Homo sapiens: one gene and its partners. The protein of the gene in region 2 interacts with the protein of the main gene of each other region in a pairwise test. Each region holds a gene or a part of one and is shown on either strand. Other genes may lie near its edges. The genes, in order: CLOCK, CRY1 and NPAS2.

What was found.
Region 1: the proteins of CRY1 (region 2) and CLOCK interact in a two-hybrid assay, tested with the Homo sapiens proteins (one study listed by BioGRID).
Region 3: the proteins of CRY1 (region 2) and NPAS2 interact in a two-hybrid assay, tested with the Homo sapiens proteins (one study listed by BioGRID).

The regions. Positions count from the first base shown.
Region 1 is NC_000004.12:55,456,220-55,459,972, reverse strand, and holds part of CLOCK (circadian locomoter output cycles protein kaput), read left to right. Parts: intron 1-711; coding exon 712-825; intron 826-962; coding exon 963-1,081; intron 1,082-3,672; coding exon 3,673-3,753. UniProt on the Homo sapiens protein: Transcriptional activator which forms a core component of the circadian clock.
Region 2 is NC_000012.12:107,086,804-107,090,556, forward strand, and holds part of CRY1 (cryptochrome-1), read right to left. Parts: intron 1-3,753.
Region 3 is NC_000002.12:100,962,986-100,966,738, reverse strand, and holds part of NPAS2 (neuronal PAS domain-containing protein 2), read right to left. Parts: intron 2,682-3,753; coding exon 2,563-2,681; intron 1,879-2,562; coding exon 1,796-1,878; intron 1,080-1,795; coding exon 973-1,079; intron 1-972. UniProt on the Homo sapiens protein: Transcriptional activator which forms a core component of the circadian clock.

The DNA of each region.
Region 1 (3,753 bases), on a different chromosome or scaffold from region 2:
GTAGATAGTAAGGACCCTTGGCCAGGTGCAGTGGCTCTCGCCTATAATCCCTCCACTTTGAGGCAGGAGGATTGCTTGAGCCTAGAAGCTTGCAACCAGCCTGGGCAACATAGTGAGACCCCATTTCTATAAAAAATTAAAAATTAGCCAGGCATGGTGGCTCACACCTGTAGTCTTGCGTACTTGGGAGGCTGAGGCAGGGGGCTCACTTGAGCCCAGGAGTTCAATGCCACAGTGAGCAGTGATCATGCCACTGCACTCCAGCCTGGGTGACAAATCAAGACCCTGTCTCAAAAAAAAGAAGAAAGTAAGGACCCAAAGGTGTAGATGCTAAAGGAATAAGGAACAGTGATGTGGCCCGGGTCCTAGAGAAAATAGGAAAGACTATAAATGGTAGAGATGGAAGGATTAGCTTTAGAATGTGAAGCAAAACTTTCCTTTGAAAGTGAGTAAAGAATGAAAAGGATGAGTAGCTAAAAATAGGGAAACATTAAGTTGTTTGCACCAGAAAATCTATTTTTTCTATTAAAGACAAAGTGAGATCCTCTCCTGAAGGTGCTCTACTTTTATGAACTAAATGTCATTGACGACTTCTGTTGGGGAAAATAATGGTTGTAAACTTACACAACTTTTATGATCTTACTTTATGTGGTATATCAATCATTGTTTTATATCAGAAATATGTGATTTTTAAAATCTCTTTTATTTCAGCAAAAAATCAGTTAGAATTCTGTTGTCACATGCTGCGAGGAACAATAGACCCAAAGGAGCCATCTACCTATGAATATGTAAAATTTATAGGAAATTTCAAATCTTTAAACAGTGGTGAGTTAAAATGCTTCTCTCACAATGTGTTTTAACTTGTTATTTTTCTGTGCTCTTAAAGACATAGATGTTTGAATATCAGTGACAATTAGGTTTTGCTGGCATAACTGATGATACATATTTCCCTATTGTTTTAGTATCCTCTTCAGCACACAATGGTTTTGAAGGAACTATACAACGCACACATAGGCCATCTTATGAAGATAGAGTTTGTTTTGTAGCTACTGTCAGGTTAGCTACACCTCAGTTCATCAAGGTATGTTTTTAATTTTATTTCCCAAAGGGGATTTCAGTTCATATGCTGAGAGCTGCCTGAAACTTCCTGCAGACATTGAGGTGGAATGGCTATGAGTCATTAAATATGCATGATAATATTTTTGAAACGATGAGTTATCAAGACACTCATTAAATTGTATAACTAATTTTTTAGTATATATCCTTTGCAGTTAACCAGTGATTATTATATATCAATATTGCCCTACTTTTGTGGAAGATTTTAGGATCCTTTTGTGTGTTGTTCATTATCTCTATTAAAAGGGAAAGTCCAAAAATCTAGGTTTTTGGAATCTTTATTTTTAGAAGGTAACTTTTAAATTTTTATTTGAAATGTACAAGTGGCTCTTTGCCACATATAACTTACCTTTTCAAATGTAAAATTAGGTATTTTATTTTTATTTCCTGGACCCAACAAACAGATGACAAGTAGGGAAGTGGGAAAGTGAAAGAGTTAACCACTAGAAACTGACTGGAAAGAGGCAGCCAGGCTAAGATTTAAAATTTCGGCGGGGCCAGGCGAGGTGACTCATGCCTGTAATCCCAGCACTTTGGGAGAGCAAGGCGAGAGGATTGCCTGAGCCCAGTAGTTTGAGACCAGCCTGGGCAACGTGACAAGACCCCATCTCTACAAAAAATACAAAAAATTAGCCAGGCATGGTGTTACACACCTGTGGTCTCAGTTACTCAGGAGGCTGAGGCAGGAGGATCATTTGAGCCCAGGAGGTCGAGGCTGCAGTGAACTGTGTTTGCATTTTATTTTGAGACAGAGTCTGACTCTGTCTCAAATAAATTTGGGGGGACATCATAGTATAGGACAAAGTACTGAATTAATAGAAGATCTTAAGCCAGTCTTGCTTGGTTTGTTTTGATCTTATGAAATAATAGTTGTTAACATTTGAGTGCTTACTACATGCTGTGTATTTTATATGCATTATCTCATTAATTCTTATGACAACCCTATAAGTTAGATGCCATTACGATCCCTCATTTTACATTATAAGGAAACAGGCTTAGGGAAGTTAAGTGACTTGCCCAAAGTCTCAGCTATTAGTGATGAAACTGGGACTTGATTCTATTAATTAATAATTGTTTTTTTCTCAAAGCCCAAGCTCTCAACTATTACAGAGTGCTGCAGGTCATTCAGGGACACAGAGGCAGGATGGAATACATTGTTTAGTATGACTAGAGTCTAGGGTTAGTGTGTGGAGGGGGAAGAGATAGTGGGAGGTAAGGCTAGAAAAGTAATCAGAAACCAGAAATAAAATTTGTTTCTTTCTTGTTTATTTCTCCATGCTGAAGAGAGTTTAGCACAAGGAACCACTGAAGGTTTTTTAGCAGGGAAGTCATATAATATTTGAGTATTGGTAAGGTAATTGTGGCCCTAGAAGAGAAGATGAGTTGAAGGACAGGGAGACTGGTGAACACTGTAGCAAATCAGTGATGGCAGGGGTCTAAACCAATGCACTCAAGATGGATGAGATAGAATTGATTTTTAAAATACTTAGATGAAATGGAAAAGATTTAGTAATGGCCACTTAGATGATGAAAGGTAAAAATGAAAGAGTATGTTTTTTTAACTATCAGATTTCTAGACACTGGCCACTACACATGTATAGAATAATACGGAAAATTGTGTGATTGGGTGTGAGGAGTAAAGCAGTTAGTTTATTTTAGGACATATTGAATTTGAGATGTATGAGGACATTCAGATATTTGGAAATATGGAACTGTAATTCAGGAGAGAGGTCTGAATTTTGAATAAGCGTTTATAGGCATGTGTGAATGGAAAATGTGTAGAGTGAGAAGTACCCACCCAAAAGCTTGCATCTAAAGGTTATTTATTACCACATTCTTTAGTACTGGAAAATTAAAATATATTAACTTGTTTAGAAGGGCCTGCATTTTGGCTTATGCCTAGAATCCCAGCACTTTGGGAGGCTGTGGTGGGCAGGTTGCTTGAGCCCAGGAGTTGAAGACCAGCCTAGACAACATAGACCCCCCACCTCTACAAATAAAAATACAAAAATTAGCCGGGCGTGGTGGTGCATCCCTATAGTCCCAGCTACTTGGGAAGCTGAGGCAGGAGGATCGCTTGAGCCTAGGATGTTGAGGCTGCAGTGAACTGAGATCACACCACTGTACTTCAGGCTGAGTGACAGAGTGAGACCCTGTGTCAAACAAAGAAATAGGTAAATATATACATACATAGAAACAACTAACTTGTTTAGGAAAAGTTTATCTAGTAATGACTATTTATTTATGTATTTATTTAACCTCCACCTCCTGGGTTCAAGTGATCCTGCTGCCTCAGCCTGCCGAATAGCTGGGATTACAGGTGCCCGCCACCGTGCCCTGCTATTTTTTGTATTTTTAGTAGAAATCGGGTTTCACCATGTTGGCCAGGCTGGTCTCAAACTCCTGACCTAAGTGATTTGCCCACCTCAGCCTCCCAAAGTGCTGGGATTACAGGTGTGAGCCACTGCACCTGGCCATGACTTATTTTTATATGTAGCAATATTTAATATTCTTAAGGACACAAAGTATTTATAAATTTTAATTATTTATTTGTAGGAAATGTGCACTGTTGAAGAACCCAATGAAGAGTTTACATCTAGACATAGTTTAGAATGGAAGTTTCTGTTTCTAGATCAC
Region 2 (3,753 bases):
GAGAGATTCTACTAGGCTGGTGCCAAGGGGAAATATGGGGTTACAGTCCCCACAGAGAACTCACTGTAGAGCAGCGGGAACAGGGGCACTGCCCTCCAGGACCCACAGTGGTGGCAGTCTAACTAAAGCCAAGAGAAGAAGAGAAAGGTGTGGTCAAATGTGTTAAATACTGTTAAGAAAAAGAAAAAGAAAGAAACAAAGAAAGAAAGAAAAAGAAAGAAAGGAAAAGAAAAGAGAAAAGAAAAAAAGAAAAGGAAAAGAAAAGTCAGGGAGTGGAAAGATTAAAAGTATCCTTTGGATGTAAACAGCATACACCCTCAGCCTGGAAAAGTGACAGACATTAGACTCCAATCCATGAGAGCAGCCATGTGGGCTATGCCCAACCAAGCCATAGAGATGCAGCTGCCCAAGGTTTTGAGAGCTCACCTCTTGGACCAGTGTGCTCAGGATGTGGGAGGGAGTGGAAAGTGAGGAAGTGGAAAGATTAAAAGAATCCTTTGGATGAAAACAGCACACACCCTCAGCCTGGAGAAGTGACAGACATTAGACTCCAATCCATGAAAGAAGCCATGTGGTCTGTGCCCAACCAAGCCATAGAGATGGGGCTGCCCAAGGCTTCAAGAGCCCACCTCTTGGACCAGTGTGCTCAGTTATGGGACAAGAGTCAAGCGAGATTATTTTACAGCTTTAAGATTTAATGTCTGCCCTTGTAGGTTTCAGACTTGGGTGGGTCCCTTTTTGTTGGTCAATTTGTCCCTTTTAAAATGAAAATATTTACCCAATGTCTGTTCCACCATTGTATCTTAAAAGTAGATAACTTGTTTTTGATCTTACAGGTTCATAGCTATAAGGAATCTGCCTTGAGTCTCGGATAAGATTTTAGACTTTGAGTTGATGTTGAAACTAGTTAAGATTTCTGGGGACTTTGAAAGAGATGATTATATCTTACAATAGAAAAAAGAGGGTGGGCATGGTGGCTTACACCTATAATCCCAGCACTTTCAGAGGCTGAGGCAGGAGAATTGCTTTAGCCCGGGAGTATGAGACAGCTTAGTGAGATCTCACCTCTACAAGTAATAAAAAAAATTACCTGGCCATGGTAATGCATGCCTGTGGTCCCAGCTACTTGGGAGGCTGAGGTGGGACAACTGCTTGAGCCCAGGTGGTTGAGGCTACAGTGAGCCATGATCACGCCTCTGCACTCCAGCCTGGGCAACAGAGTGATACCCCGTCTCAAAAATAAAAATAAAAATAATAAATAAATAAGACAAGATATTTGGGGGGCTAGAAGTGGAGTGATATAGTTTAGATATTTGTCCTTTTCAAATCTCATGTTAAAATGTTATCCCCAATGTTGGAGGTGAGAGGTGTTTGGAACATGAGATAAGATCCCTCATGAATGGCTTGGTGCTATCACGTAATGAGTGACTTCTCACTCTATTAATTAACAGAACAATTAATTATTAAAAAGAGACTGGTATCCCTCCCCTCTCTCTCTCGCCATGTGATATGTCAGCTCCACTTCCCCTTCCATCATGATTAAAAGCTTTCTGAGGTCCTCACCAGAACCAGAGGCTGAAGCCATGCTTCTAGTAAAGCCTGCAAAACTATGAACCAAGTAAACCTCTTTTCTTTATAAATTACCCACCCTCAGGTATCCCTTTATAATAACACAAACAGACTAAGGGAGTGCTCTTATAAAAAGGGCTGCAGGAACTTGTTTACCCCTTCTGCCATGTGAGGAGACAGAGAAAGCATCGTCTATTCAGCAGAGACACTGAATCTGCTGGTGCCTTGATTCTGGACATCTTCCAAAACTGTGAGAAATAAATTCCTGTTGTTTATAAACTACCTAGTCTAAAGGTATTTTGTTATAGCAGCTCAAACAAACTATTAATAAAACAATACTAACATTCACAAATGAGGGCAGCAAATGCTAAGAGTGATGTGAGGAGCAACAGCAAAAAGTGGTGCAAGAGTTCAGAATACTGCTAATCATCCCAGACAAGCACAGAGTTGTACAATCATCCATCACCTTCTAGAACAGTTTCATCATCTCAAAAAGAAACCTTGTGCCCCTTAGCTATCACCTCCCAACTCCCTAGCTTCCCCAGTCCTAAGGAGCCACTAGTCTGCTTCCTCTCTCTATACATTTGCCCACTGTGGACATTCCATATAAACAGAATCATATAACACATGGAATTTTGTGACTGGCTTCTTTCGTTTAGTTTGTTTTTAAGGTTCATTCATACATGTAGCGTATATCAGTACTTCATTCCTTTTTATGGCCAAATAATATTCCATTATATGGATATACCATATTTTGTTTACCCATTCATCAACTGATGGCCATTTGGGTTGTTCCCACCTTTTGGCTATTATGAATAATGCTTCTGTGAATGTTAGTGTATAAGTTTTTGTATAGGATAATTTTTCTAAGAGATGCAAATTTTCATAAAGCTTGTAAATTTACCCAAATCAAAAACATGTTATTCTGAGACAATGTCCTTCAAATTTTTTGTTGTTGTTGTTTGTTTGTTTGTTTTTTAAGAGATAGGGTCTCTCTGTGTACCCAGGCTGGAGTGCAGTAGCCCATTCATAGCTCATTGCAGCTTCCAACTCCTGGGCTCAAGTGATTCTCCTGCCTCAGCCTCCTGAGTAGCTGGGATTGCAGGCATGAGACATTGAGCTCTGCCAAACTTTTTTTTTTTAAATATAAAACATCCTTTTTAAATGAAAGGATGGCAATATCAAAAAGTGGTTTTGTTAATGTGCTTATTAGGTAGAATACTATTTAAAATTTTGCTTTTCTGTTAAATCCAAAAGTCTAAAAAGTGTTGACCGAAGAAAATACAAGATAGCTTCTAAAGAAAACTAAGAGGGTTTTCCCCCTGGAGTTGAAATCACATATTGTAAACAGCAGAAAATGAAATACATAAGCCAAAAGGTAGATCTTGCCAGGCTAAGGAATTTGGGCATTATCCCATAGTCAATAAGTAAATTAATAAAGCTGTTTAAATATAAAATTATTGACTCCAAGATATCACTATATTCAACAAACAATAATTGAGCTACTACTATATAAAAAGCACTGAATTTGGTACTATGAGTGATTCCAAAAAGACTTTTGCCTCTGACACTACCAAAACCACTCCAGATAAAATTCCAAATGACCTAAAATTGCTAAATCCAATTTTTATTTTTCAGTTCTCCTCTTGACCTATCGGTAGCATCTGACGTAAGTAAAACACTCTTCCTTGAAATATTTTCCTTCTTTCTTTTTTTTCTTTTTCTTTTTTTTTTTGAGACAGAGTCTGGCTCTGTTGCCCAGGCTGGAGTGCAGTGGCACGATCTCGCCTCACTGCAACCTCTGCCTCCTGGGTTCAATCGATTCTCCTGCCTCAGCCTCCTCGAGTAGCTGGGATTACAGGCATGTGCCATACGCCTATCTAATTTTTTTGTGTTTTTTACTAGAGACGGGGTTTTGCCATATTGGCCAGGCTGGTCTCAAACTCCGGGCCTCAAGTGATCTGCCTGCCTCAGCCTCCCAAAGTGCTGGGATTACATGCCTGACCAAAATACTTTCTTTACTTGGCTTCTAAGACACCATACTCTTCTGGGTTTTCTTCTTACATTACTAGTGGCTCCTTCGCAGTCTCATATGCTGGTTCTTTCACAGCTCCACAATTTATAAACATTAAGAGTATTCAAGGTTCAGCCCTTGCACCATTTGCATCTCTTGTCTATCTCATT
Region 3 (3,753 bases), on a different chromosome or scaffold from region 2:
GCCTGTAATCCCAACTACTCTAGAGGCTGAGGTGGGAGAATTGCTTGAACCCAGAAGGTGAAGCTTGCAGTGAGCCGAGATTGCGCCACTGCACTCCAGCCTGGGTGACAGAGCGAGAATCTGTCTGTCTCAAAAAAAAAAAAAAAAAAAAAAGTTCTAATGGGTACTACAGGTGAGGCATCTTTTAAAGCACAATGTTAGTGGTCGATTCATGCATTAGGATCAATAGGTCAGTGTTCCTATTTCAAGTTAAGAGTTGGCACTGAAAATACAGCTGTAAGTGGTTAATTCTTGAAACCACTTGCTAAGTGAGAACTCGGACAAGCTTGTAATTCTCACTCCCCCACATCGTAAGTCCCATCCCCCATACATTTGCTAATGTGTTCGCCTCGTATGTGGCAAAGAGCCTTCCCTGAACCCCAGCTGTGAGGGTCCTCTTGAGTCCCCCAGTATGCTGTGTACATCCCCTTCAATGCACCGACCACATCCCACAAAGTCACCCATTTCTGGCTTTCCCAGAAGACCTGCCCTGCGGGACAGCAAGTAGGTACTGATCATCCCCATATGCCAGCCTACTCAGTATCTGGCCTATGGTTAGTGACCAATACTTATCTGCTGATGAAAGAACAGTTATGAGAATTCGGTATTTTATCTCTGAAATGTATTGCATAACTTAAAAAAAAAAATCCCTGCATCACCTTAATTTCTTAATTAGGTTTAAACAGGGCGCCTATCTGGATGACAGTGGGAAGGTGCTAGGGTTTGGGGCCAAGTGAATTCCAGTGACATGGGGGTAGACGCGGATAAGGGGCCTCCACCATGCCCCCAGATCATCTCAGAGAAAACCAAGTTCCTCACCTTAAAAAGAAACCAGGTAACGAGCAGAGGCTTCTGGAGTCCCAGAGCCCTGCTGCTGGGCCCCAGTGGAGTGAACGCAAGGCCCCCATGCCTGGGCTGGGCAGTGGTACTCACGGTGCTGGTGACACCTGGCCAGGAGCTCCAGGTCATCAATGTGGTAGTAGTCATAGCCTGAGGTTCCCAGCACTTCAAAAGGCAGGTATCCTATGATTGGAGGTGCTCTGCACAAGGACAAGGAGGACTTGTCATCAGGGAGGAGACACCCTGCAGGGCTCACCCTGGTGGCCATGCCTTTCCATAATGATCAACATGGAGGCCTCATTTCTCAAGAACAAGGGGAGAAAAATAACTTTGTAATGGTCAAAATCAGAGAGGCTGTGTTTTCCAAAGGGCTCAGCTTTTTTTTTTGGCATATAGATACTCCTTTCCCTTGGCATAACTTGGCCCAAATAACAATAAGCTTTATCACTACTGGGTAATTAAAAACAGCTACAAATTGGATCAGCCCAACACCAAAGTGTAATATAAATTAAAGGGTGGGGAGGGGAGATTTGGAGTTCTTCAACTGCAAATAATGTTACAAAAGAAACAGTAAAGATTGGGCTAAAAGATCAAAGGATGTTGAAAAAAATGAGATGAGAGATTTCTCTCACACTTGCTGCTGCCTTACTGGGAGCCGGGAAGGGCCTCAAGTGAGGATCATCCCAAAGATGGCCCGGGGCTGAGCCATCAGACCCAAACACAGAACATATTCACGATGGGGCAGATGAAGTTGGAGGGAAACCACCCACCCTTGGCAGGGACGACTTTTCCTAGTGCCAGAGAGTCCTCCTCTTTCAATGGACCAGGGCCGACTCTTCTCTCCCAAGGAGAGCCTGGCTCACGCAAACAAGACTTGAGAAGGGCCCAACCCAAATATGTTTTTCTTTTCTCAAACCTGTGATCCAGAAATAAAAATTTCCATTCCAAGCTATGCCTTGAAGTGAATTCCTCTAAAGGTTCGTCAACTATGCACATTTCCTGTATTGGAAGCAGAAAAAAAAAAAAAGTTGCTTGGGTGCCAGATGCTCACCCTAGGTTTGTTCAAGAGGAACGCGTGGTGGGTAACAGAAGTTAAAATCATTTCGAGCAAGTCTCCAAGTCGTGTTGGACTGAAACTCATCATCTGTAGCTAATTTCGGTATTAGCTGATACTAAATTTATTTCACAAGCTAGGGAAAAATACCTAGGAGCCAGAATGTCACACCATCCCTTCCCATTATCGAGAAGTGGCAAACATGTGGAAAATGGCTTTTCATCGGAATCTGAATTACTCATTTAACTCAACATTCATGCCATCGATGTTGAAGCAATCACAGATGAGAGAAGGCAGACAAACCCCCAGCGCTCCAACACTCGGTTCTCACCCAGGCCTGGCCTGCATGGTATTAACGCCGGTGTGAAAGGTGGGAAGATTTACAGTTATCAGACAGCACTTCTGCGGGCTGAACAGCAAGCGATGCTGCCTTCAAAGAGAACCACTTGCAGGAAACGGGGCAGGGGAAAGGGCGTGTGTGCAGGCACAGAAGCCAGACACTTCGATTTTCAAAGCCAGTGACAACTTCACTGCAATTTATTCCCTCCCAAAAGACCATTAATTACATATAACAAAATGTGAGTCAATCATAACAGCTCCGCACAATGAACTGCCTCTCAGGTACTTGCCTTTAAGAATTGTGGTGTTGCCAGACGAACGGTGGCAATGAAGCAAACCTCCTTTCCTAGTGGCACCCGGCAAGGTCTTGAAAGGGTGTTGTCAAAACCATTACAGGAGGGGCTAGGCACTGGGGGGTTGGGAAGAAGAGGACACATAGGTTAGCCCTGTCTGGTGACAGCAGCCAATCCCTAGTTGGCACTTAACTGTAAGCCAAGCGCTGCCCCCAGGGTTTATGTAGAGTATATTAACTCATTTCATTTTCACAACTGGATGAGGTAGGTCAACTATTATTCCCATTGCAAAAAGAGGAAACCGAGGAACAGAGGGAAGTAACTTGTGCAAGACCAAAAAGCTTGCTAGAGCTGGGATTTGAGCCCATGCTGGTCACCAGCATTCAGCACTGCCTCTCACTTCCACTAGCCCTATGGCTTATAATGCTGGGAAAAATAGTCTACAAAATGAGAACACAGGCCAGGCACAGTGGCTCACGCCTGTAATCCCAGCACTTTGGGAGGCTGAGGCGGGAAGATCACTTGAGGCCAGAAGTTCGAGACCACCATGGCCAACACTGTGAAACCCCATCTCTACTAAAAAACAAACAAACAAACAAAAACAAAAATTAGCTGGGCATGGTGGTGTGTGCCTGTAATCCCAACTGCTTGGGAGGCTGAGAATCACTTGAACCTGGGAGGCGGAGGTTGCAATGAGCCAAGTTAGCACCACTGCACTCCAGCCTGGGTGACACAGTAAGACTCTGTCTCCAAACAAAACAAAACAAAACAAAACAAAACAAACAAAAAAAAGAGAAGACAGCCTCATTCTGCAGTAACGGTTTGAATACTCCAGCCAGTGTTTTAAGGTGAATTCTATAATCAGTGTTCCTGATACTGATGGTCCCAGGGAAAGTAGGGGTGTCTCGGCATCATTGACACCCCCTTCCCTGCCCCTGTCTTGGCTGGCATACCTGGGGTTCAAGGGCCTCTGTCCTGAAACTCCCCCTTGGGAGCCCAGGCTGATACAGGGGTTGGGTCTGGGCCACTGAGGAGACAGGGCTCAGGATTTAGGGGTCACCCCCAGAGGAACACAACGCCTACAACAAAACTTGCTAGTTCCCTAGTGTGGCCCAGGTGACAAAATCTGCTCTCACGCATCTTCTTACATCTTCTCAAACATCTAGGAGGGCATTACTGTCCTAGGCC